4 linked regions of the Homo sapiens genome follow. The protein of the gene in region 1 interacts with the protein of each later gene in a pairwise test. Each region holds a gene or a part of one and is shown on either strand. Other genes may lie near its edges. The genes, in order: ARID4B, NHSL2, DNAAF6 and DYNLT1.

Region 1 (7,032 bases):
AGTAGCACTTAATGAAGAAAATAAACAAATAATAAAGAATAATATTATACAATATATTGATTTTGGAACTTTATAGAGGATATGGAAAATATACCAAAGAAAGCAAAAGACAATTAACAATATCTGATTTACCAGAGAGGGCTTAATATTTTCTTTTCTTTCAATTTCATCCTCAATAGGCTTTTCTTCTCTTGGTATTATATTCCTCTCCTCCTCCATCTTTATTTCTTTGATCTCTGTTTCATTTTCCTCCTTAACTTTTATTTCTTTTACATTTTCACACTCCTTACATTGCTTGTTAACAACTTTCTCTGGCAATGCCATCTGAAATTCAATGTTGGCTGATCTACAGTACTCCTCAAAACCATATAAGTATCTGGAAACATGAAGAGAAATTACATTTGGTGAAAACATTTCAAAATATAACTATAGAGTTATTTTTAATGTGTATTCATTTCTTTTGTCTAAACTCTCAGATATTGAGCCATATTAACATTCTAATTTATTCTAGTTCTTTCTAATCTTTTCAATGCAAAAAAAAAATTTTGTCAAAAAATTCATTTAAAACACTGTGCTCAGAGTCATAACAATAACAGCTATTAAAAGTATTAGTAATAGCATCTATTTTTTGCACATTTCTTATGTGTGAGGCTGGACTCCTTAGTAAATCTCATTTAGTCACTACAGTAACCCTGGGGCACACAGCAGCATCCTTTTTTTGTTTTTTTTTGTTTTTTTTTGTTTTTTTGAGACAGCCTTACTCTGTTGCCCAGGCTGAAGTGCAGTGGCGCAATCTCAGCTCACTATAACCTCCGCCTCCTGGGTTCAAGCAATTCTCCTGCCTCAGCCTCCTGAGTAGCTGGGACTACAGGCGTTAGCCACTATGCTCAGGTAATTTTTGTATTTTTAGTGGAGACAAGGTTTCGCCATGCTGGCCAGGCTGGTCTTGAACTCCTGACCTCAAGTGATCTGCCCGCCTCGGCCTCCCAAAGTGCTGAAGTTACAGGCATGAGCCACCGTGCCTGGCCAAGCATTCCATTTTACAAATGAAGAAACTGAGGCTTAGGAGAATAAATAACTGGCCCTAGGGCATAAACAGTTAATAATTGGCAGAACTAGGATTCAAATGTGGATTTACTTGACTTCAGAATATTAGCTTTTTAACCTCTATGAAGTACTTGACAAATGTACTTAGCCACAAAAACTTTCTTCACAGAATTTCTCATAGATCTAGTATCATAGAATACACTTTAGAAAATACTATCATAGAATGACTACTCTAGTAAAATGTTCTGATTTCTTTAAAGAAATAATTAACCTCAGTTATAAGGTAAATTTCATCCTGCTTTCTAGGTAAAAATACTGAAGATAATCATATCAATTATACTAACTTACTTTTTATAAGCACATTTAACATTGTATCCTGCAGCTGAATTTAAGACAGGGATTCCAAGATCTTGGTAGACTTGTTTCCAAACAGCTCCACTTTCAATCTAATGGACAAAGTGAAACAAAAACTCTCAAATTAAAAGGTGTTAATATAATAACATTTTGATAGACACAGTATATATGAGTATATTTTTATATTTATTGGTCCTAGACTCAAAAGAATTTTTAAAAACTTGATAAATTCTAAATTTGGTTTAAAAATAAAGGTTTTAGTACTCTAACAAATATCAGAAAATTATAAATGTTGAAATATTAAGTCATTTGACTATTTTTTTTTTTTTTTTTTTTTTTTTTTTTTTTTTGGAGACAGGATCTTATTCTATTGCCTAGGCTAAAGTGCAGCAACAGTGGCACAAACACAGCTCACTGCAGCCCTGAACTTCCGGGCTCAAGGGATCTTCCTGACTCAACAACCCAAGTAGCTGGGACTATAGATGCACACCACCACACCTGGCTAATTAAAAAATTTTTTTTGTGGAGATGGAGTCTCACCATGTTGCCCAGGCGGGTCTCAAAGTCCTGGGCTCCAGCAATCCCCTGGCCTTAGCCTCCCAAAGTGCTGAGATTACAGGCATGAGTCACCATAACTGGCCCCATTTGACTTTTAAATAAACCCAGTTATGGAAAATGGAAAAATATTCAGGCTCTTAAATCAAAATTTTTAACAAAGAAATGGAGACAAACATTTTTAAAGGATTTATTATTTCGCATAAAATATACAGGCTAATAAATGCAGTTCTGCAGAAATTTGTAAAGTATTTTATTCCATAGAATATTCTCAATTGGATAAGTATCGTACATCACGTCAACCTTAAAATAATTTCTTCAGATCAGTTCAACAAACATTTCCTGCTTTAATCCCTTTATATTCTGAAAGGGATTAAGAATATACAGAATATTAAGACAGATCCCTGCTCTTAAGGAGCATACTGTCTAATGAAAAAGAGACACAGGAAGGATTTCCACCAATATGGCTGTGCTGTGACTCAGATAAAAAAAGAAGGTTTATGAAAGATTGACCAATTTAACAGTAATCAGAAAGCTGATATGAAAAAAAATCTTTTTTTTTTTTTTTTTGAGACAGAGTCTCATTCTGTCACGCAGGCTGGAATGCAGTCCAGCGGTGCAATCTTGGTTCACTGTAATCTCTGTCTCCTGGGTTCAAGCGATTCTCGTGCCTCAGCCTGCCATGTAGCTGGGATTACAAGCGTGCGTCACCACGTCTGGCTGATTTTTGTATTCTTTGTAGAGATGGGGTTTTGCTATGTTGGCCAGGCTGTTCTTGAACTCCTGGCCTAAAGTGATCTACCCGCCTCAGCCTCCCAAAGTGTTGGGGTTGCAGGCATGAGCCACCATGCCTGGCCTAAAAAATCTTTAAAATTTAAATTTTGTCTGAGGAGGCTAGCTGTACTTTCCACTTTATCTTCTTCTTAGGTTTTTACTGAAAAACTTTGTTTTGTTGTTTAGAAAAACAATTTCAGAGATGGCAGATACCTGAGAAAACATGTTACATGAAAAAGATGTTTCAGTTTGACTACAACACTCACATTATCAAATCCTCCAAGTTTGTGTACAAGTCTGAATAACTTAAAGAGATTCAAATTTCGATATCCAAGTACAGGTCGTTTGTTAATAGGTGTACCTGTTACAGAAAACACAAACTATATTAGATCCACACTACATTTTTAATTTAAAATTTCAAAAGATTCAAATAATACAAGTATTTATAGTATTTTATATATATATACACGTATATATATATATACACGTATATATATGTGTGTGTATATATACATATATATGTATATATATATATGAGAAATTATCTTGTTAATCAAAGACATGGTATCTACACATAAATAAGCCCATGGCCACTTTAAAATTTTTTAAATTTTAAAAACCATAACCAGATTCTTGAAACCTTTTATTTTCATTCTACTTTCTTCCCTCTGCTGAGGGAAGAAATACTAGATAACTGCTTCCCAATAAGAGTTACTTTTATGGCATTTTCTTTGTATTTTACCAATTTACTACTACTCTAAATAATGATTCTATAGTAAAGCTACATTTTTTTTTTTTTTTCATTCTAACACAAGAAAACGCAAGGCAAGGATGCTAAATCAAACAAACCATGAGAAAGTGGTAGAGGAGGTAACAGGGTAGGGGTACAATGCCTCATATGGCCATTTCTACAAAATATATGACTGGCTTAATCATATTTTTTCATTCTTTTCTAGTATTAGATTTTATTCATTTTCTTTGCTTTTTCATTTATCTTATACAAGAGCCTATGAAACAGCATACTTCTTAGGCCAACCCTCCATTCATGTAAAGAAATAATACAAGAATCAAAGACATTTTATATTGAAAAAGAAAATATACTTATATTGTGTTAGGCGTTGTTATCATTTATGAAAACTAAACATGACAAACAGAGTCAGTTTCTACTCATCAGCATTACAATCAGGGATTTAGAAAACGTTCAATTCCCAGAGTATTGTGGTGTTTCCAAACACTAATCATTCATTTTGCCCTTCCCTTCCAGCTAGAAAGCCTCTCCTTACTCCCTTACAAGCATCTTCCCAGAAAAGAAGAAAGTAGACTCTGACCAAGAAGATAAGCTAGAGAATAACAGTGTTGAGGTTACGGAAGGATTAGTTCATTACCCTAAGTTATTCTTCTTCCTTCAATCCTTCCGTGGCCTTAGCAGCTTCTGGCAGATTAAATAAGCTGAGCCAAGGCTCACTTTTGAGACTTTGTCACACTTCTTTATCTATTTCTGGCTTAATTCCCATTTTGCTACTGTTCTTTAGGGACCCATGGATAGGTAAAGGGATTGGCAGGACAGGGTAATAAGTGCATTTATGTGTCCATAGCCACAATATCTGTCAAAATGCTATCAAATTCCTCATTCTACTTGTTACGTGACAGGCGCTATGCTAGGTGCTGGTGATATCAGAGTCAAAAAGACAGCCATAATTACTGATGACATAAAGTTCAGTAAACAAAATTCTATTCTTATTTTTAAGATACTAATTATCTGTCCAAAACTTACCACGTTAATGATAAATAAAAAATACTCACCTCTATCTTCCATAAATTTGTACAATTGCTGAAGAAAGTTCTCCCTTTCTTCTGGAAATGGTTCTATTTCTTCCTAATTTTAATCACAGAAGAATATTATTTTCTTCAATTAAGCATTTTAATAAAACAAGCAGATTTCTTACCAATAGCAAAGACTAGTGTTCATTAAAATACTTCAAAGGCTTTTTACGTAATCAAAGTTACTCTTTTAACACTAAGCTGTTCAAAACCAGGTAAGTCTAGACATTTTATGTTTTATAGAGGAATATGCCTTAAAAAGTATCCCAATAGTTAGAATCCCCACAGTAAAAATTCCCATATGAGAAAAGGGACTAGCAAGACTGTTCGTGGTTTTGTTTTGTTTTGTTTTGTTTTTTTTACCATATGAGAGAGCTATTTTTCAAATCAGGATCACAGGTTCAAGAATACCTACTCTCAACTTATGCGAAACTGGATCAGAGTTAAACATCAAAACTAATTCTATTATTGCTCCTCAAGGTACTATAAAAGTATGGGTCCCATTAGCTGACTGCAAGTATCCTTCATTTTATGCAGCCCCACTGTATATACTTCAAGCTTACATAATCAGTAAAGTGGGGAACAAATTTGATCTACAATACCTGAAGATTCAGACTTAGGGAAATCTTCAAGTAATAAAATAGTTCCCCAATTTATCAATTACAAGGGAAGGACTAGCTTCTTGCTGCTGTGGCCAAGGGCTGTGGCAGCAGGGAGCTGGTCCTGAAGCAACCTGCAAGGAGCAGGGTAGTAGGTTAAGATTGAGGAACTCACCAATTCAATGACTTTCATCCATTCAACAAACACTTGAGCACCTGTAAGTGTAGGTACTATGCCAGGTGCTGAATCAAATAAAAGAAAAAATAGGCTATGGAGCCTACTGTTACAGAACATGATTAGGAGTAACTGCAGAGAAAATGATTCCAAATATACAGCTAGGCTTTACAGTTACTCTGGCTTAAATATACAGATTTGTAACAGTAAAAGTTAGGATATTCAACTGGTAATCTAAATAAATAAAAACATAGCATTTTTCAATTTGGAAAATCATGTGCCTAATGCCACTGCTTTAGCGAGATTGTCTTTTTAATTTAAAAGCTAGTACAACAAAGAAAGGTAATTTTTTTTTTAAAGCCTATGTTGATCAACTATTAGGTTTTCTAATTGGGCAGAGAAAAATAAATGACAACCATTAATTTGCTAATGATGAATCTGTATTTCTCAATTTAAACACACTCCATACATTCAGGTTTTGGTAAGGTGATCAAATACAAATCTAAGGACATCTATTTTCTAGATGTTATCTTAAATGTTCCCATGGTACAATATTTAACTTTAATAAACAGCACAATTTTTCCTATTCCAAAAACATTTAAGGTAAGCTTTTAACTCAAGAAAATGTTTACACTACACTACAGATTTGCTTTTACAAAAACACTTGTGAAAACACTAAGCACCAAAAGGTTTGGTAGCTATTTATCATCTGTTATATTTTACACACTATGACAGACACTTTAAGTATGAATACGAGTAAGACAGCATTCCTAACTTTAAGGAACTTACAAATTCGTGGGGAAGAAAAAATAGACAATAAATATAAATGACAAAAATATGTATAAGGAGCAGTAGTAATTCTTTTTTTGTTTTGTCTTGTTTTTGAGACAGAGTCTTGCTCTGTCGCCCAGGCTGGAGTGCAGTGGTGTCATCTCGGCTCACTGCAACCTCCGCTTCCTGGGTTCAAGCAATCCTGCTGCCTCAGCCTCCCTAGTAGCTGGGATAACAGGCACCTGCCACCACGCCCAGCTAATTTTTTTTTTTTTAGATGGAGTCTGGCTCTGTCACCCAGGCTGGAGTGCAGTGGCGTGATCTCGGCTCACTGCAAGCTCCGCCTCCCGGGTTGACACCATTCTCCTGCCTCAGCCTCCTGAGTAGCTGGGACTACAGGCGTCCACCACCATGCCCGGCTAATTTTTTGGTGTTTTTAGTAGAGACAGGGTTTCACCATGTTAGCCAGGATGGTCTCGATCTCCTGACCTCAGGTGATCTGCCTGCCTTGGCCTCCCAAAGTGCTGGGATTACAGGCGTGAGCCACCGCGCCCAGCCACACCCAGCTAATTTTTGTATTTTTAGTACAGACGGGGTTTCACCATGTTGGCCAGACTGGTCTCAAACTCCTGACCTCAGGTGATCCGCTAGCGTCAGCTTCCCAAAGTGCTGGGATTACAGGCATGACCCACCGTGCCTGCCAGGAGCAGTAGTAGTTTAGACTAGCAAATGAACTGGTGCTTTCCTGAGGTGAGGGAGGTGATGGTTCACAGGTTTCTCTTTAGAGAGATGGCACCTAAGTAGGGTTCTGAAAATTGAACAGGAATGTACCATGCTGACTAAGGAAGGAGGGGAGGAAAAGGTGGTGCCTACAGAGGTACTAGCATATGCAAAGGTGAGTAGCAGCAACATATGTAATTTGACATTGCTATAGCA
Region 2 (7,032 bases), on another chromosome or scaffold:
GGACAGAGAGAGGAGGAGCGAGATAGAGGAGGAGAAAGTGGATGCTGAAGAAGTTGAAGGTGCTTCTCTACACAATCACAATCATGGGTCATGCCCCCACCATCTTCAAGGTTACAGGGGTGGACTGGGCTAGGCTAGTTGCCTCGCAACATCCCACCCACTCCACTGAAGGCTGTTCTTTGGTAACATGAACCCCTTTGAGACTGCCCTAAAAGCTCTTGTAACTGGTATGGTGTGGGAGATGGGGATGGAAGGAGGAGACGGTAGACCACAGGACTGCCGAAGGCCCCTGTGGTTGTGGATCTGTGGCAGTTGCCACACCCTAGGCATGGCCCTGCCTATAAGTTGAGGTTTTCCCCACATCTGGTTTTGAATGTGTCCTGTTTTATGGCATCTGTGGCCTGTACACTGGGTTCTTCATCTAAAAAATGGTGTAGTCAAAGCCATTGGGAAATAGCTCCATGCCTGCCACCATATGCTGAGTCAATCTAAGCTTTCCAACTTCTCCCTTGGAGATCTATATAATGTTTGTAGGTGCTTAGATGATAATTACAAAAGCAATCAGGCCATCCGCGTAGGGATATAATATCTCCTTTGCCATCAAGGAAGTCACTGAAGGGCTAGATAATTCTAGGTATGTTTAATAACACTGGAAAACTATCATGTTACACTAGCTCATGAACTTGCTGTGGGAAAGATGTTCTGTTGCTTCTTACAATTATTTTGGCTTGAATACAGCCAGTTGGGTCCGTGGTGAAAACTCCCTCTTCATCTTTATGTAAAATTCCTACTTCTTGATTTTCCAACTTTATGGCAACTCTGGCTCCAAATCAGAAAGGACAGCTGGTTTATTTGTGTTTAAATCATAATTCCAGTGTGAGGATAGACTGTTGTAAATCTATACGGAGATGAAAAAATGAAAAAAGCACCTCCAGACTGCAATGAGTTTGCCATTAGATGAGGTGTTGTGGACCCTGAGTCTGACCGTCCTTGCTAATGAAGAGAAGAGATGGCCTCTTGAGTCAGATGGAGTGGGGAGGGTGGCAGGAATTTGGGGACTTGGAACAGGCACTCAGCCAGGGCTTACTTTGTCTCTGTGGTACGTTTCATCCCGAGGCTCTTGGGACAGAGGGTTGACAGAGTATGGAGGGAGAAGCAAACCCATTTTCTTTTCTCTTCCCACCCCACCCTGCTTTCCATTTTCTTTTTAAATACCATGAAATTCCTGGTCTGCTTCATGGTATTTCCATGTGTTGAAAACATCTTCCCTGGAGATTTGGATACCAAAATGTCCACTAGAATTTCTTCCACTTTAGAAACAAGACATTTAATCTTCTCTTTTTTAAGACACATGAATAGCTAAAGTGATAAAAGTGTCAGGATGTTGGAATAGTAGAGTAATAGGAGAAGATTCAAGTTATGGCTCTTGGGCTCAACCTTGACCTTGACGACATTGATTAGGTTTTAGGAGGAGAGTGGTATATTTACATCATCTGTTCCTGTACCTCTCTGGTGTGGTACCAACAATTCAGTCATTAACCACCATATGTGTCATAACACTTGACATCCCGGACCCAGAAAGGGGAAGGTACCTGTCCAAAGGCACCCAGCTGGATCAAGACCTTCAGTAGTCATGAGTGCTGAAAAGATTTTAGTGCCTCCCCATATGTAATTCCAAGTGAAAGCAATACTAAACCTTTAAACAAAAATGTTACTCTTTTTAAATGGCTCAAAGCTCACATGGATGTTGAAATTAAAATATCTTACTAGATTCTTTCTCCCTTCCTCTCTGTCTTTTGTACCCCTGCTGTTGGTGGCCTAATCATGTATTTAATCTGCTGATTTGGGAATGTGGTACCGGCTGGGTCACACAGCAGGTCAGTGACAGGAGGCCTCCACCTAGAAGCCATGCCTTCTGACAACCAGACTAGTGCTCTGCCCTCTGCAGTGATGCTAAGTTCAAAGTCAGTTGTTCTTCGAGAGTCATTTTCTTGGCATTTTCTCTAGTTGGAACTTGTCCAGGATGAGAAATAACTCCTGTTACCTTTAGTAACTGAGGGCACCCTGTGGTTCTGTAGTTGTGGCCGGGGGTGAGCTGAAGCTGGAGAGGAGAAAGGAAGGTCAAACTTTCTCATATAGAGAATATAGAGAATAGGTGTGAGGCAACAGGCTCTCTTGTTAAAGCAAAACATAGTCTTCTTTGAATGGAAAATTGCTCCAGAAAAAGGATCTTCAGGTGGGAAGGGGTGGCTGGCCAGTGACCCTGACACTGTTGCAATCCCTCCTGATCCCTCTGCCATCTTTATACCTGTTCTTCTCCCTTGTAGCTTTCAATCCAGTTGTAGACACTACTTGCCACACACCTGCATCCTGACTATTTTCTGTTATTCTAGTAGAGGCTGGTTGGCATTTCAGAAGGCACCTTTTATTAAAAACCAATGGGAACAAGAAAGTAACATTATTACCAAAAGTGCATTTAGCATACACATTTACAGGGTATGGATTTCTTATCCTTCAGTGCTCAAGTAGCTTAACAGGCTCACTGGCTTTGCTGCTGTATTCCCTTTCTGAAGGCCTCAAATCGTCTTTTCCTTAGATCATTATTTTCTAGCCTCGAAAAGTGGGCACAACTGCGTCTGGACCCTGTCTGACCTTTGTGCTGGGTGCTAAAGACCCAGAGGTGAATAAGACCCAATGTCTCCATTCGAGGAGCTGCCAAGCTGCAGAGGTAGGTGCCATCTCATTCCTGACCACATCAGCATGTGGTGCCTGGGAATCAGGTCTTATTTAGGTGGAGGAGAGCTGATAACCAGAACCAGGACCCTAGTTCACATACCAGAAGATTCTTCTGCTCAGTCCGGTTTGGCGTCCAAAGATGGAATTTGGACTTTTAGAATTCCCTATGGTAAAAACAAAAATAAAAACCAATCTGTCATTCTGTTAGTGTTATTGTGAATTTAGCAATGCTTTTAAATGAATTTGCAGTTTTAAACACTATAATGTTATCTTCATGCATATGAAGAGTAGTGCTTATTCAGTCCATAGACAATGCTTGGTGGATCTGCAAACTAACAGACTTCTTGTGATAACTCTATGGTCCTCTAGAGTCCTCTACTGTCAGTTGGGAATCGCTGGCCTTCCTGGTTCAAGCTATCAGCTCTCCCCTGCTCTGTGGAACTCCACAATTTCACTCAAATAAGCCCTCATTGAAGTTTTCAAGTTAGAGGGCACAGGATGGCAATCTTAACAGTCAAGACTACTTTAATAATGCCACAAACAGGAGGTATGTTTATTAAGTGTACAGGTAGTTTGCAGTAAAGTGCTTTGTATGAGGTCATGCACAAGACCACTAGGTATCAGCCAGTTAACTTGGGAGGTTTGAGCAATTAGGCAGCTCTTCCTCCCTCCCTTCCTCTCTCCCTCCCCCCTCCCTCCCTCCCTCCCTCCCTCCTTTCCTCCCTTCCATTCCCTTCCTCCCTCCCTCTCTTTCTAAAATGTAAGCTCCTCAATAAGATATAAGCTCCTTGAGGGTAGTAGTCTTTATCTGTTTTCACTGTTGTGTCTCCAGCTCCCAAAACAATGCTTGGCACCTAATAGGCACTTAATAAATACCTGTTAGATTGAATACCTTCTTTCTTTCTTTCTAGCTATCGCACACTCTTTGAGTACTTGACTCTGGGCCCTGCCCTGTGCTGATTTCTGGGGGTACAGAGTAGAACTAGGATGCAGGCCCACAGTCCAGTGGGGAGAACAGTGAGCCATAGTGCTGTGGAGATAAGGTCTAGGCTACCGGGGCAAGGCAGAGGAGGCACACCTGACTCAGGACAGAGGCTGAGCGAAGCTTCCAGGAAGATGTGATGTCTGAGTTCTGAAGGATGATCTGGAGCTGGCCGTTGAAGGTTGAAGAAGGTGGGGGAAGGAATTCCTGGCTCAGGAAGTAGCCTGTGCAAAGCCCTGGATATGTGAGAGAGCTGGTGTGGGGGAGGAATTCACTGCCAGTGATTCAGGAGGAGAGGGAGCAAGGCACCTCCTGACTCAGAATAAGCCCCCAGGGTGGAGGTGGGGTGGGAAGTTCCTCACATCCTGTTTGTTCGTCAGGGAGTTGGATATGAGGGTCTTGAGAAGGTTAAACTGCATGGTTCAAATGAAGTTGTAATATTAACTAACTGTGGATTTTCTTTATCTACACTCAAGTTTTCATTATCCTTGGGCAGATGAGACCCAGGCAACCTCGGCTCCTTCATGCTTTGCAGGGCCAGGCCCTGGGCCCCTCTAAAAAGGCTAGACAGAGCAGGAGGGGCTCCGAGCCACAGTGAGAAAGAGAGAGAAAGCAAGAGTCTACCTGCCTGTGTGTCCCCGGCTGTGTGTATCCAGTTGCACTCCAAAGCTAAATGTATTATTTATGCCCCTGCTTTTCTGTGAGTGGGGAAATTTGAGGCTTGACGATATCTTTTATTATTATTTTTCTTTCTGAATAGCATAGATTCTTCAGAATCGTCTGTAATTCATCAAGGGGAAAATCAGAATTTTTTTTTTTTTTTTAAAATGGACTCAAAGAGGAGATGAGTTTTTAAAAAATATCTATCATCTGTTTTTATTTTGACTGGAATCATTTGCTTCCGAGCACAGTGTAATTAGCTGCCTGACAATTTATAGCCTGATCCCCAGTAACTGAAAAATACCAAACTCAAATTATTCCCCCAGACTAGGAGGCCCGGAGGTGATTGAGGTCTCCTTACGTTAACATCCTCTGTCCTTGGGGGCTGAGGGGGAGGGCAGTTCTCTGCCCTTGCAGGAGGTGGTATCTCCGAGTTGTCAGCAAGACAGGCCTTGTTGTTATACACTGAGTGTCTCCTTTGACTCAGTAATTCCATTTCCAGGATTTTATGCTAAAGAAATAATCAGATATTGTGGGGGGAAAAATGTGCAGGGAACCCCCACTGCATTTTTTGGTTATTTGCATTAGCCAGAAAAAGGAAAATAACTTACACATTCAATAATAGGGGAGTGGTTATATAAATTTTCCTAGGTCTATGTGATAGACTAATATACAGCCATGAAAAGCTATGCTCTAAATGAATTATAAGGCTACATGGAAATGCACAAAATAATGCTGAGTAAAAACCAAAGATAAAATTTACTACTATATACAATATCGTCTAAAACAGAGCACCCACACAGACACATACACATAAGAAGAAACTGGAGAAGCCTATGCCAAAATGCTGACAATGATTATCTCAGGGTGATGGGATTATGGGGATGAGTGGTAGTATTTTCCTTCTACCATTCTGTATTTGTCAAAATTTCCCCAATCAACATCTATTACTTTTAGTAAATAGAAAAGACAATGGATGACATGTTAAGGAAAAGGATCTTTGGATTTGGAATCGTCAGCTTCCAGGTGAAGTCCCACTTGCCCAGCACCTACTATCTGACTCTAGTGTCTCTGAGCCACAGTTCCTCATCTGTAAAATGGGGTTAAATACTACCCAGTTCACAGGGTTGTTGTGAGGATCCAAAATAATGTATGTATTAATGAAATGCCTGGTGCCTATGCTGCAACCATGGACACCATCACTAAATACTAAGAAGGTGAAATTCCACGAAGCTTGCTGAAATCCCTGGATGGGGGTACTGTCAAGATGAAGTTATAATAAGAATGTTCCTAGACAGCTATGAATTGCAGCCATTCTTCCCTTTTCCAGAATATGTAAAGAATGTTTGTGTGCCCACGGAGGAGCCGCATCTAGCCTTTGAGGCTGTCAGCTCATCTTTCCCAACCCGAGGATTTTCCTTTCCTCTGACTCCTCCCTTCATTCTCCCCCACTGACATCTGTTCACTGCCTCGCCAACCAAGGGGGAAAACATTCTTTGGAACTGAAGCTGAGGCACCACCAAGAGTCAAGGCAGCTATGAGATGTTTATTGTCACAGAGAATATGTGGTGCTGGCTGACCACAGAACCTGCCAGGCTGGGATGCCAAGGAGGGACTTTAATGAAGCAGCAGAGGATGGATGCAAGCCGCATAGCCAGGCAGTGTCCCCTGCCTTTGGGCAGAGCTCTTGTCCAAGTGTCTCACTGGCTCTCTGTTTTCTTCCCCTTGGGATGTCTGCATGGCTCCTGGTTGAGCTCACCAGTTTTACAGAACCAGCCTGGTTTATGGGTGAAGAAACACCTTCTCACAGAACTTATGGGGCCTAAGCGTGTTTCAGTAAAGTACTGGGCAGTTTGCCTGAGGGCCCAGCATGCCTAACTCTCACCAGCGTGGATATGAAGCGAGGAAAACCTGAGCTCACAGCCAGGCAGCCTCAAGGACATAGGCACACCTCAGCAGTGTCTACAAGATGCCCTGGCCACCAGGCAATCCAGCCATCTCCCTGGGTAGAATCCTTCACACTGCATGTCTGATTGCATTTTTCATTTTTTAATTACAGCCGTAGACTCATATAGACTCTGACTGCCAATCTAAAGCACCTAGAGAGTTTTTTTAAATTGTTAATGTTTTGCTAAATTCTTAGTAATTATACAAAATCATTATGTAGACCAATAGATATTATTGACCAAGATATAGTGATGCTTAAAACAAAGTCCTCTGTAATCAGTACAACATGTTGGTAGAATTTACCCTAAATGTTAAAAAAAAAAAAAGTACTAATGCTGTGGCTCCACCCCATACCAATAAATCCAGAATTTCTGGGGGATGAGGCCCAAGAAACAGTACTATTTAAAAGTTCCCATGTGATTCTACCGTGCAGCTTAGGTGAAGAACTCCTGTTATAGATGTTAAAGCTGGGAGAGACCCAGTTTCCTGACTTATTTGAACACGCAATCCTTTACAAATTATACTTGTGGATAATGAGCATGAACTATGATGCAGACTTAGATTAAAGTAAGTGACAAAAAAAAATGATCTCGCAGATGAATTAATTGTAAGCAGTAATAATGCGAGGTTAGGTTACATATATATTTTGTTTTTGTTTTTTTTGAGACTGAGTCTTGCTCTGTCGCCCAGCTGGAGGGCAGTGGTGC
Region 3 (7,032 bases), on another chromosome or scaffold:
ATTAATACTTGTATAACCTATATGACTAGTGATACTTTAAATTTGATAGGATTTCCATAAAAAAACTCATGGAGCTTTCCACTTTAATTACCCATCATTGTTATAAAACAGAAAGACAGATGTCAAGTACTATTTCGAATATGCTTTCCTTGTTCTTTCAAAAAGTGTTTGGTTTAATAGACTCAAGAGCAGAATTGATCTTTAGTCAGGCTAAAACCCTAGTTCCAGCTCAGTGAATCATGTATCCCTGGGGATAGAGGAACGAGCCACATTCATCTCTATGAAGGTTAGAACCAAGTATTAGTATAAAGGCATTGACACTTTTGGGGTTTAGCAGTGTCTGGTTGTAGTCAGATGGAGGACAGAGTATGTGAAAGTTTTATAGAAATAAAAACTAACACTAAGCAGAAGCTAAGTATTCAGACTTCAGATTAATCATTCAAAAGCCCTGATAACTGCTTTTACTTTTTTCCACTATAGGTATGAAACACTTCCCTGTCCCACCGCCTCATGACACTGAACTAGTGGATTTAAACAGCAACCACAAATTAATAGTCTCTAATACATGCTGATGTACTTCAGTCTTCATAACTTCATAAGTTTATTTTTCCATCTTCTGCACAAGCATACACATCCCCAAAGGACTTGCCCTGACTCACCAATACAAGCAATCTTCATTTTTTTCAACTAAGTATAACACATAGCGACACCACCTCATTGGCCCGTCTCAGGGATTCTTTGATATTTCAAGAAAATCCCAATTTCTTACCAATTGTTTTTTGCTGATGACAGACCCTGCAGCTCCAACTCACTCCACTGCTGGCAGTCAAAAAATTCTTATCTCCTTGCCTACTGGCCAACTAGCACCTCTATCTCTCTTTTCTCAGGCCCCTGTCCTCATCTCCTAAGACTTTAGACATGTACAAAAGTTAGAATGTCTTGTTTGGGCAAGGAGAGTAGTGTCTGTTCTTGAAAGCTGATGGAACAGCTCACGTGGGTCTTTATTATGTGAAACTATTCCAAGAGTTATAAATCAGAAATTAATCTATAATCTCTCAACAGTGTCTGAGACAGTAACTATTCCTTTCCAAAAGGTGTTTCAAAAGTGCTATGTCTGCGGTTAAGGCATTACAGGCATTTTTATGTGAAAATCCCAAGATAATATTTGGGACATTTTTTTCCCTCTTTTTTAATCACTAATGTCATGTAAATGTGTAGTACTTTTCTTAAATTATTAATCATCAGAACACTAATAGTCAGAGTAAAGCATTTCTCAGAACATGAGGGCCTCTTGTTTAGTTGAGTGCTGCCTTCCACAGAAAATTAAAAGCAGTAGAAGTAAAACCTTGGACATTCTTGACAAAAATTGGTATACTTTCCATGGACAGTGATTGGCTCAGAACACATGGGAGTTTCAATTTATTAATTTAATGAAAATAAATGATTAAAAATAAAATTTTCAAGTTAAAAGATGGAATGGGATCATAAAAACATTAAAAACCATCTGGCAATTGTTTTCTATTAGAACATCATTTGAGCCTTTACCATGAATCTACAGCCAATTATCTGAGCAATTTATCACTGCAATTCATGCCACTTTGTAATATGTAAGACAGAACATCCTCGTTATAATGTCTGTGAAGAGCAGTGAACCTTATTTCCCACAGGCCTTAAGATCCCCTCATGGCTTTGAAAAATGACAGACACACTCTCTCCTCAATCTCCCAGATTCTTAACAAGTCATATAGAAAAGGGATAGTGTAAATGAAGCAATGTGTATGCAACTGTTCTCTTGCTGTTTTCAGAGAGCATATTTTCAAAAACACATCACTCTTGTAATCATCCCACAGTTCCCAAGATTAATACATGTTAAAAAATGAAAAGCAGTTTCTCTCCTGGAAAATGTAATAGTTCATTAGAAACATTAATTATTCTCCCACTGTTCTGATACTGTATGTCCTCTAATGATATCTGTACTGTGGTGTCTGAATGACCAATTATCTCAAAATTGTTTATAACCCAGATATACAGAATCATACATTATTATAGTAATTTTCCTTTATAAACTGTACAACTCAGTAATATTATGTTAGTCTATTCTCATAAGCACTCATCTTTTCTCCTAGAAACACCTCTAGATGCAAATAAACACCTCCAGCCATAAACACCAAATGGAATAGGCTCTGTAACCAGGGTAAATCCTTATATTTGAATCTGTCCCAGTTACAAGTTCCACTTCACTATATTCAAGGTCACTGTTTCTCAAATACTTGATATACTTTTTCTATATGGCATAACCTTACCTTTCCTAGGATGTAGGCTCCAGAAAATTATTATTCTGCTACTCAACTAAGGTAGCAAAAATGAGCTTGCCTTCCCAACTTCATTGATACATTGTTCCTAACTTTTTCTCCTGTATCCTGTTTGTTGTGTATAGCTAATGCTGTCATTAACATCCTGATGTTTCTTTGTTTAGCCTCTACTAAGACTTTTCCCTGACTAAAACTTCCTGGTTCCTGATCCTGGCTCCAAGCTGACTCAGTTCTTCTACAAATGTTATTCCCATTTCACATCTTATTTATTCTGCCCTATTCCACCTAAGCTCTTCCTTAGGGTGGTAGCTCAGTTCAGTGTCAATCTGAGCCACTGAATTTGCTGCCTGTTCATAGCTTGCTTTTTTCTCCACATTGTGGCAAAAATAAATTTTGGGAGGAGTAAATTGATATGTACGTTTGTGAAAGATGATTTATTCATGATAAATTGGTCATATAACAAAACACTTCATTAAAATAATTTTATGCAAATTGACAGATTCTGTTATGATATGGGATTTTTTGCCCCAAATTTTGTTTGCCCTATCATAGGCAGTCTGATAGCCAAGGCTCACCGATAGTTAAGAAATAGGAGAATGGAGAGCAGGGAGTTATATAAAAGTGTTTTAATTGTTCTGGGAATACTGGCAGTAACCTTGGAGTGGTCAAAGGTCAGTTCAATGAACTCTTCTACCCAAAATGAAGCCCATCTTGCTACTGCAAGCCTTGCTGGCATTACCTATCTTGACCCCAAATGCTACTCAACTAATTAGACTCCACAACTTTATTTGTGCATTACTGGGAAGCCAATTTTGGTAGGCTGAAACTAGTTTGCCCTATTATTTGGCTCAAAAACTTTCTGTTCTGCGTTAATGTGTAGACAAATTAAAAAATTAAGGGACTGGTACTTGGTGGTCCAATTAATACTGTATAACTGAAAATATTTGTTTTATAGAAATATTGCCTAGGCTTAAACAATCCTAGCTACCACTCTGCAATGGTTGTCAAGCATTCTTTGGCTATAAATATAAATGACAACATTTTGAGATGTGGCTATTGCTACCACAGTTACAGAACTATTTTCCTATTCAGTGTTCAGGTGGTTTAGAAAAATATAATTATCTTTGCTAGAAATGTACTACAGGTTACATTGTCATGCATAATCAGCCTTGTAGCTTCCTGTGAATGTATCAAATGACACAGCTCTGTTCCCACAGCTAGGTGGGAACAGGTTATTCAAATACAGTTCCACAACTTCCCATGAACAAAACTAATTCAACTGTTAAGTATATGACCACCTGTCCATAGTCAGAATCATCCTCTTCTTCAGGATTAAGTAGCTTAGAGAGGGCTTCCAGAGCTGTAACTGAAGAAACACTCTCAAAGTCTACATTTTGAGATTCCATATTTTCTGTCTTCATATTTTCAGAATCCATATTTTCAGATTCCATTATCTGAAGAAAAAGATAATCAGAAAGAGGTATTTTACTTTTCTGTTTTATTTAAGACATGAAGATGTTTTATTGTCATATCTCCCTTCTTTCCCTGGATCACTCCATTGGTTCTTATACTTCCTTGGAAATCCTTTTAAACTCCTTCAAATATATGTATTTTGCTAACTCACAGACCTGGAGCACCAAGTAAACTCAAACATTCAGCCTGCTTTACTAAAATGTCATACTCAAGCTAACAAGCACTTATTGAGCACCTAGTATAGTGGTTCTCGGGTTTTAATGTGCTTAATAATCACTTGGGGGAGTTGGTTTAAAATGCAGATTCTTAAGCCCTACCTCTAGAAAAAGTGTATGATACATTATGTATCATCATTTGGGAACATATTTTTTAGACATGAGCAGTGCTTCAGGGCAGAAAGGTTGAAGTCATGGTTACAGGGAGACCTATTTAAAGTGAAGAAGGACGCTGGCCTATAGAAGGTGGGGTACAGTTCTTGAGGTTTGTGCACAAGTTGACTACTAGAGATGAAGGTTCAGAATAGGGCAGAATAGGGCTCAAAGTTCCAGCTGGAAAAGAGAAAACAAACCAGGCACTGTGTCGGTGGCTTTCTCGTGTCACCTAGGTACCCACAGTGGAGGTTATGAAGGAATGTTATGGTTCCTTTGGTACATTGGATACTGGATTCAGAAAAACCAGATTAATTCTGAATCCCTACCAGTTATTTGGAAAGGAACTCTGGCCTGGTTCTCATTAGGTGGGAAGTAGGCCAGTGTGAGCAGTGGGAAGCTATACCTGTAGATTTAGTGTCTTTAATAACTGCAGCTGGCACATAGTCAGCAGTTGATTAATACCAAATGAAGCATGACTAAATTCATCTGAATGTTATATTTCAAAATAGTCATTTGGAAGGTTATACACTGATGTAAATTATGCTATCAATGCTCAAAATATTTTGGGATTTTTCTTTTTATTTGGAATTGCCTTCATATGTATCACCAAGAAAATAGGTATCATTATGGTATCATTATGGTATCATTTGGTTTGATTACACATCAGATTTGTCGCCAAGTGATTTCTAGATATATTTAGATATCATGTCTACTTTCAAAATATGAAGATTTTCTTCTTTGAGGATATTCAAAAGAATGTGCTACATGCCTCAAGGTGATTCTAAAACAGAAGTTTCAAAAGCAATTTTAGCAATAACAACAACATTAGAGTAAATAGATTAGTCTCCTAAAGTGACTACTTCGAAGGGGATGGTCCTCCTTGGAACGTGTACACTTGTTTTTGTTAAATTATTCACAATAATTCTTAGTAACACTTTATATATCTGAAGCATATTAGGAGTTAGACTTCTTAAAGTACAATTGGACTTCCAAATTATGCTGGAATAAAATGCCATAGATTTGCACTATAGCTCAATTAAAATAGAAATATAATAATAAAATTACCACTTTAGCCAAAATATTTTTGCCATATCAAATGTAATAATAATCTGTAAACACAAATTAATAAATCATGACAACAAAAATAAATAAATCAATCATGACAAGTTTGTTGATATTGTATTTTGATAAACAAAAGAATCCCAAATATTTTGTGACTAACTAGTTAAATGGTTCAAAGTATCAAAAGAGAAAAACAGTTTGTGAATTTTTAGAAAAAAACATTCAAAATTCAATGGAAAGGAAGATTCTACTAGCTTTTTAAGAAGTCTAACATATTTAGAATAACTTATTCAACTTTATTAAAAAACATTTATTAAAATTCATTTGACACAAGTGGATCACAGCTGAAAAACTAAAACAGGAGGACTTTTTAGGAACTACAAAGAACTATTTGTAGGGAACTATCTTCACTACAATGAACTATGCAGTGTTAGTTTATAGCTCTATCTTTTATTTCTAAATGTGATATACATTTAAGTTCATCCTGAGTCTGGCAATCAAGGTCCTTCAGGATATAGTCCCAACGTAATTTTCTGTCCTTCCCTTCTATTATTCTCCTACATATTCTGTTAAAAACTAAACTGCTTATTAAACATACTCTATAATTTCCTGCCTTTGTACCTTGGAGTGCATTCTTCCTTTTGCCCTGACTTATTGGATAGTACAGTGTAGCGATTTTTAAAAAGAAGATTCTGGCCGGGTATGGTGGCTGACTGACGTCTGTAATGCAAACACTTTGAGAGGCCAAGGTGAGCTCACGGGTCACGTGAGCTCAGGAGTTCGAGATCAGCCTGAGCAACATAGCGAAACCCCGACTCTACAAAAAATACAAAAATTAGACGGGCGCGGTGGTGTGCCCCTGTGGTCCCATCTACTCAGGGGCCCGAGGCAGGATGATTGCTTGAGTCCCAGAGATGGAAGTTGCAGTGAGCCCAGATCGGGCCACTGCATTCCAGCCTGGGAGACAGAGTGAGATCCTGTTTCAAAAATAAATAAATAAATAAAATAATAACAATAAAAAATGAAAAAGAAGATTCTGGAGCCACACTGCCTAAAATGTTTGAATCTGGCACTGTCACTTAAATAGGCCAAGAATAAACTTAAAGTAAGGAAAATTTAAGAGTTTCAGTAAAAACAAAATATATTACTGTCTTTTATTTGAGATTTGTATTTAGAAAATAAATTTTTTAGGCCCTTTGTTTTTCTTTCTCTCCTTCTCTTTTGCTAGGCCAATGCTAATGGCAACATTTTCCAGACAGAGCCTTTGATTTTCCCACATTAACCTGAGTACTTGGGGTCTTCATAAATAGAGGCATGATTGGACCATCTACTAGCCACAATGAGCTAAAGCAACTGACACTCCAGAACCAGCTCATTACCATAACACTGGAGCCAGTCAGGGGCTGAAAAAGTTCAACCAGATTGGCTCCAGACCCACAGCACTTAAGCAACATCAGTAACCTTGAGTTAAAGTCAGACTGGTTCTAAGGCTGGGATCATGCTTTCTATTTTATTTGTCTCCTTCACAGTATCAATAAAGATGGCTTTTGACATCAGTTAATTGTAGAAAAGTCTAGGTTAAATTAGTGAAAACTCTGAATTACAGACTATTCAAATAGATAATAGATTTTATTAATTCAAGTATATATGGTAAATAAAATCAGGGTGATAAAGAACCACCAAGCAGGGCTGGGCGCAGTGGTTCACGTCTGTAATCCCAGCACTTTGGGAGGCTAAGGTGGGTGGATCACCTGAGGTCAGAAGTTCAAGATCAGCCTGGCCAACATGGCGATACCCCGACTCTACTAAAAAAC
Region 4 (5,802 bases), on another chromosome or scaffold:
ATCTAACCAGAACCCAGCAGAGCCGTCAGGATCCTGGTCCCACGGGTAAAATGAGTACATCATGGAGAGGACCACAGCAGAACTTTTTTTTTTTTGGTTGTATATATATATATATATATTTTTTTTTTTTTTTTTTTTTTTTTTTTTTGAGGCGGACTCTTGCTCTTGTCACCCAGGCTGGAGTGCAGTGGCGGGAACTTGGCTCACGATCTTGGCTCACTACAACCTCTGCCTCCTGGGTTCATGCCACTCTCCTGCCTCAGCCTCCCGAGTAGCTGGGACTACAGGCGCCCGCCACCACACCTGGCTAATTTTTGGTATTTTTAGTAGAGACGGGGTTTCACCGTGTTAGACAGGATGGTCTTGATCTCCTGACCTCATGATCCGCCTGCCTCAGCCTCCCAAAGTGGTGGGATTACAGGTGTGAGCCACTGCGCCTGGTCTGGTTGTATAGATTCTGTAGCCACTCACTATGAAGAAATCGTTTATGATACTATGCAGACTATGAAGAACACAACAGACTTTAGATTTGAATAATTTATTCTAACAAAAGTATAAAGTATGGAAAATTAGTGTATTTGAATCATTTCAGAGAGTAGAGCAAGTTTCACACTAGCAGATTTCAGATTTTAGCACCTTTGAAATGAAATATTCAGAGTTAAGACAAGTGGCAACGCAGGCTGCAGGTGACCTACAGGGATACTCATCTGACTTCGGTGCCATTCACATCACAGTGCGGTCATTTGGTTTTTTCCTCTACATTGTGAAAGTGCCACAAAACAAAGAGAATGAGAAAAGAGTTCACTGAATTCATGGCTGGTGGTTAGAGGATGAACTAGAGACAAAAGGAGAAAGGCCATAGGCTGGACTGCAGGTCAAATAGACAGTCCGAAGGCACTGACGATGCAGTACATGGTCTTATTCTCCCATCGCACAGTGCAGCTCCCTGCGGGAGGGAAGAGAGCAGCATTTACGGCAGGGAAAGCTGGGGGACGACGTTTTACTCACAATAAGGCCAACATTCAAGTACCCATCTCTATGCTACACAAAGAACCTTGGCAAGTCTATTATTAAATGTTTTAAAAGGTGATAAACATGCATTGCATTCAAAGATAGGAAACTTCCAGTCATATATTTCACACAACAAAACTTCACAAACATGAATGAAAATCATACCGTCAGTAGAGCTGTCCCAGAAGCAGGAACTTGCTGTGTGTAATCCAGCTCCATTCTTCTGCATAATTACACAGGTCACTTAAGTTAAAACAAATTTTTGTTAGAGAAGTCTACTGGGTAACACAAATGTCATTCTGTCCACTTTTAGCAAACGTACAATGTATGTAGCTCCACGTGGTTGATGTTCTCGATAAAAATTATAGGGACAGATTGCCTTGTCTCACTATATTGACAAATTATAGGTGCTCCTTGACTTACAACATCCCATAAACCCATCATAAATCAACAATATATGAAAATGTAAGTTGCAAATGCACTTAATACCCTGGTAAATCCATCAAAGTTGAAAAATTCTAAGTTGAGCCACTGTCAGCTGGGGGCTGTCCACACTTCCTCTATGCTTCACTTGTTCTAAAAGCATCTGATGGGACCTCCTGTAAGATCCCGCTTCACATACGATCTGCAATTGTACCAGCAGCCAAATGGTCAAGCGTACGCTAACGTATACTACACACACGACCGACTCCCACCAGGAGCCTTCCTTGAGTTGAGCCACGTTAGCTGTTGTTTCTGGTACTGGATGCCCCTCTGATCAGTGTTAAAAAACCATCCCGCAAATATAAAAGAAACAAGACTCCATTACCGATGTATTTAAATGGTTTTCCCAGCTTGGTGAGTTGGCTTAAAGTTTGTTCTACTACATTTGTGGTCCACTGGTTCACTTTGCTGTGTTGATAAGCGTTACCACCAATTGCGCTTTCTATAGCCTAGAAAACAAAGCACAAAGCGCGTCCCGGTTAACCAAATGCACCCACACCACCTTTCAATCAGGAACTGACGGCACCCCAAGAAGTGATTTATGAAAAGTTTATTTTTAATCATGAGGGTGCCTTTGCAAATATACTTTTAATAGCATTATATTTCATTTAAATAAGTTTGAAATTTGCTTCAAAAATTCATAGTCTGTCAAATTATTTACACATTTTGACCTAATAATCACATTTCATGTTCACTACTATTAATACATTTTTTTTCCTGTTGAGGCTAGAAAGTATTTTGCCTATTCATTTCTTAAAAGTATATTACTTTTATCTACTACTACCTAACATACACTAATACTATATATTAGATGAATTGTATTTGTACAACTGACAATATACAAAGCTATCCAAATAATCATATATTAAAAAATACTTTTATCCAGCATTGTCTGAGAACATGTTACCACATTAAGTGCATTTTTCAGATAACTAAAAGCCCTTTATATTCCAAAACTTATTTTAGGTTTATGATGAGATTTTTTTATTTTTACTTTTCTGAGGCAGGGTGTCATGTTGCCCAGGCTGGAGAGCAGTGATGGAATCTTGGCTCACTGCAGCCTTGACCTCCTGGGCTCAAGCAATCCTCCCACCTCAGCTTCCCTCCTGGGCTCAAGCAATCCTCCCACCTCAGCTTGTCCAGTAGCTGGGACTGCAGGCATGTGCCACCACGCCTGGCTAGTTTTTTGTAGAGATGGGGTCTTGCTCTGTTGCCCAGGCTGCTCTCAAATGCCTGGGCTCAAGTGATCCTCCTGCCTCAGCCTCCTAAAGTGCTGGGATTACAGGCATAAGCCACAGCACCCAGCCCAACTTTTTTTCTTTATTATACGTTTACTTCTTTATCTATGCTGTATTCTTTGGGGGTTATCTGACAATGCAAGCTCATTGTCGCTGCTCTTGCTAAGCTTATCATTATGATATTGCCATTGTATGATTTTCTGAGTTTTTCATTGTCAGCTCCCCTTTCACATGGATGCCAGTGTGCTTGCATCTCAGCAACTTTATTCTCTACCCCTAACTTGCTGTGCTGGAAACCAGGAACCTGAGTTTCTATGACAGTTATGACCTAAAGTGAAAATAACAACATTCAGTGAGGGCCAAGGTCTGTCCTCAGACAGGCAGAGCAAACCAGCAGTCCAGGGATCTGAGCTGTGCATGGTGGTGATGGACTGGGATCTGATGCCTGGGGCTTAGATCTGGCGACCTTGCTTTTGAGGACCTAAAACCTCCCTAGGTCACTCTGATTTCTACCCACTGACCTGCTGATCATCTCCCTGAGACTCTTGAGTAGTCACGTTACACATAGGGCTGGCTTACTTCTTGTCCTCGGCCACTGTGCTCCCTCCCAGCTCAGAGGCTACAAGAGGGCTGGGGGGCCAGAAGTCCCGGTTTAAGAGAACAGCAGTATTACTAGACCTGGGCATTGTCAAAGGGTAGGGGGGGCTTTGTTCAAGCTAAACCTCTCCCGTCAAAGGGTGGGGGAGGCTTTGTTGAAGGTAAACCTCTCCCTCCGCCAGCTCTCCCTCCGCACATACTTTGAAATTCAGTTTTTCAAGGAGGAGGGAACCCTCCACCAATTTTGGACCTGCGCAAATTGACTACTACCCAATATTTAGGGTCACTTGAGTACAGAATTACCTATTGCGGCGGCAAAAAAGCTGTTGAGGCCAGTGACACAAGTTCAAGTAACACTGCAATGTCACCTCATGTTTCCATGTGGATTGGAAATGTGTTTGTTTTGTTTTGTTTTTTTAAGACAGAGTCTTGCTCTGTCGCCCAGACTGGATTGCAGTGGCGTGATCTTGGCTTACTGCACCCTCCATCTCCCGGGTTCAAGCGATTCTCCTGCCTCAGCCTCCCAAGGAGCTGGGACTACAGGCATGCGCCACCAAGCCTGGCTTATTTTTGTATTTTTAGTAGAGACGGGGTTTCACCATGTTGGACAGGATGGTCTCGATCTCTTGACCTCATGATCCGCCCACCTCGGCCTCCCAATGTGCTGGGATGACAGGTGTGAGCCATCGCGCCCAGCATGGAAATGTGTACTTTCAATTGCACTTGCTAATTGAAAGCTGGTAACCAAGTCAAAGATAAGGCAGAAAACAACTGCGGCAGAACTAGACTTCCCAACAAGCCCCCTCCACTGTTCCCAGTTCTGGTGTAATCCACCCACCTTCCTGCCCCCTGCTGTGTTCCACGTGAAACTGTGTATTTAGAAAAACCATGAAAACCAAACGTACAGATCCTGCAAAGCAACCAGAAAGTCACTCCTGATGCTGAACAATGTAAATGGTCAAACAAAATCATTTTGCCTTTGGATACTGATCACAAACATAGGTTGCGGTTTTTTATCAAACACTAGTCAATAATTTACATTAAATTCTAAATTACATCTGAAACCCCAAACAGTATCATTAAATTCAGATCATCTAATAGTTTTCTTTTAGCCAATGGCTTTAGTATCTGTGCCCCATTTTACCCAGGGAAGGCAGGGAAGCTGATGAGGAAAACTCTTTCTGGCTTCATTCCTACCCTAGGTAGGAATGAGCCCCTAGCTCTCAGCACCGCTCCAGCCACACCCACCTCCTTTCACTCCCTCACACACCATGCACTGCCCCCACTTCCCAGTCTCAGGGGGCCTTGTCCCCTCTTTTTACTGCATTACCCCTACTTCTCATTCTGCAGATTTCAGCTCGAAATGGTCCCTGAACTCCCTGGGTGGGTCACATTCCCAGTTCAGTGCTCTCACAGCACCACCACTAGTGGCACTTACCACACAGCAAATGCAGGCTGACACCTTCCAGCAGGACTGTTTGATGTGTCTGCCCTGCCTGCCCCTCAGCTGTAAACTCCAGAAGGGTCTATGCCCTGCACGCTCCCTCAGTGTGTACTTTCTGAATGAGTAACAAACATCCCTTCTGTCTCTCTTCCTCTTCATGATCAACAACACAATAAAGTGTGAAATTTAGGAATGTAAGAAAAGTAAGCAAATAGGCCCCAAACTGGATCACTAGGTCCAGAATAACTGGAAATTGATTGTTCAATTTTCTTATACTCACTCTTTCTTCATTCAACCCTGGAGACATTTATTTGTATACCAGGATTCTTTTATGCTTAAAAGATTATAGAATCAAATCTTGGTGATATGCAGTAATAATGCTATGTACATAAAACTCCTTATCTGATTTAAAATATGTAATTTACATAATATAGAAGCAACTCTTATCTAGCTATTTACTGAAGTAAAAACTGTTATTTGAAACACCAAAACACACAGACTCAGTCGAAACAATTCCAAGATAGTATTTAAAACACATTATTTTCTCTAATATAAGCCATTAAACATTTAAGAAGTGAGCATTTCTCCTCTTACCTCTTTTACAATGTTGCTCACTTCATCAACAACAAAAGCAGTCTGTAAGGAAGAACATTCAGTTAAGTTTGATTTATTTAAAAGATATTTCCACTACATTGATAAATGCAAATGTAGGTAATGAACATAATGTAGAAATGAAGACCTTAGAAATAATCTAACTAGACTGTTCAGCTTTACCAAGGATGGCATTACAGTCTTCAGAAACCAGAAGACTAGAATACATGCACATAATTTAAAGGTATTGTTTTATTTTTATTTATTTATTTTTGAGACGGAGTGTCGCTCTGTAGCCCAGGCTGGAATGCAGTGGCGCAATCTCAGCTCACTGCAATCTCTGCCTCCCAGGTTCAAGTGATTCTCCTGCCTCAGCCTCCCAAGTAGCTGGGATTACAGGTGCCCTCCACCACACCCGGCTAATTTTCGTATTTTTAG

Evidence for each region.
Region 2: the proteins of ARID4B (region 1) and NHSL2 interact in binary tests that used the Homo sapiens proteins (3 or more experiments, as listed by UniProt).
Region 3: the proteins of ARID4B (region 1) and DNAAF6 interact in binary tests that used the Homo sapiens proteins (3 or more experiments, as listed by UniProt).
Region 4: the proteins of ARID4B (region 1) and DYNLT1 interact in binary tests that used the Homo sapiens proteins (3 or more experiments, as listed by UniProt).

The regions. Positions count from the first base shown.
Region 1 is NC_000001.11:235,220,170-235,227,201, forward strand, and holds part of ARID4B (AT-rich interactive domain-containing protein 4B), read right to left. Parts: intron 5,394-7,032; exon of another isoform or gene 5,344-5,393; coding exon of another isoform or gene 5,326-5,343; intron 4,607-5,325; coding exon 4,534-4,606; intron 3,092-4,533; coding exon 2,997-3,091; intron 1,494-2,996; coding exon 1,396-1,493; intron 377-1,395; coding exon 133-376; intron 1-132. UniProt on the Homo sapiens protein: Acts as a transcriptional repressor. May function in the assembly and/or enzymatic activity of the Sin3A corepressor complex or in mediating interactions between the complex and other regulatory complexes.
Region 2 is NC_000023.11:71,913,835-71,920,866, forward strand, and holds part of NHSL2 (NHS-like protein 2), read left to right. Parts: intron 1-7,032.
Region 3 is NC_000023.11:107,209,607-107,216,638, reverse strand, and holds part of DNAAF6 (dynein axonemal assembly factor 6), read right to left. Parts: intron 3,767-7,032; 5' UTR 3,764-3,766; coding exon 3,611-3,763; intron 1-3,610. UniProt on the Homo sapiens protein: Plays a role in cytoplasmic pre-assembly of axonemal dynein.
Region 4 is NC_000006.12:158,635,952-158,641,753, forward strand, and holds the end of DYNLT1 (dynein light chain Tctex-type 1), read right to left. Parts: intron 5,410-5,802; coding exon 5,368-5,409; intron 1,944-5,367; coding exon 1,820-1,943; intron 1,255-1,819; coding exon 1,177-1,254; intron 947-1,176; coding exon 876-946; 3' UTR 523-875; downstream 1-522. UniProt on the Homo sapiens protein: Acts as one of several non-catalytic accessory components of the cytoplasmic dynein 1 complex that are thought to be involved in linking dynein to cargos and to adapter proteins that regulate dynein function.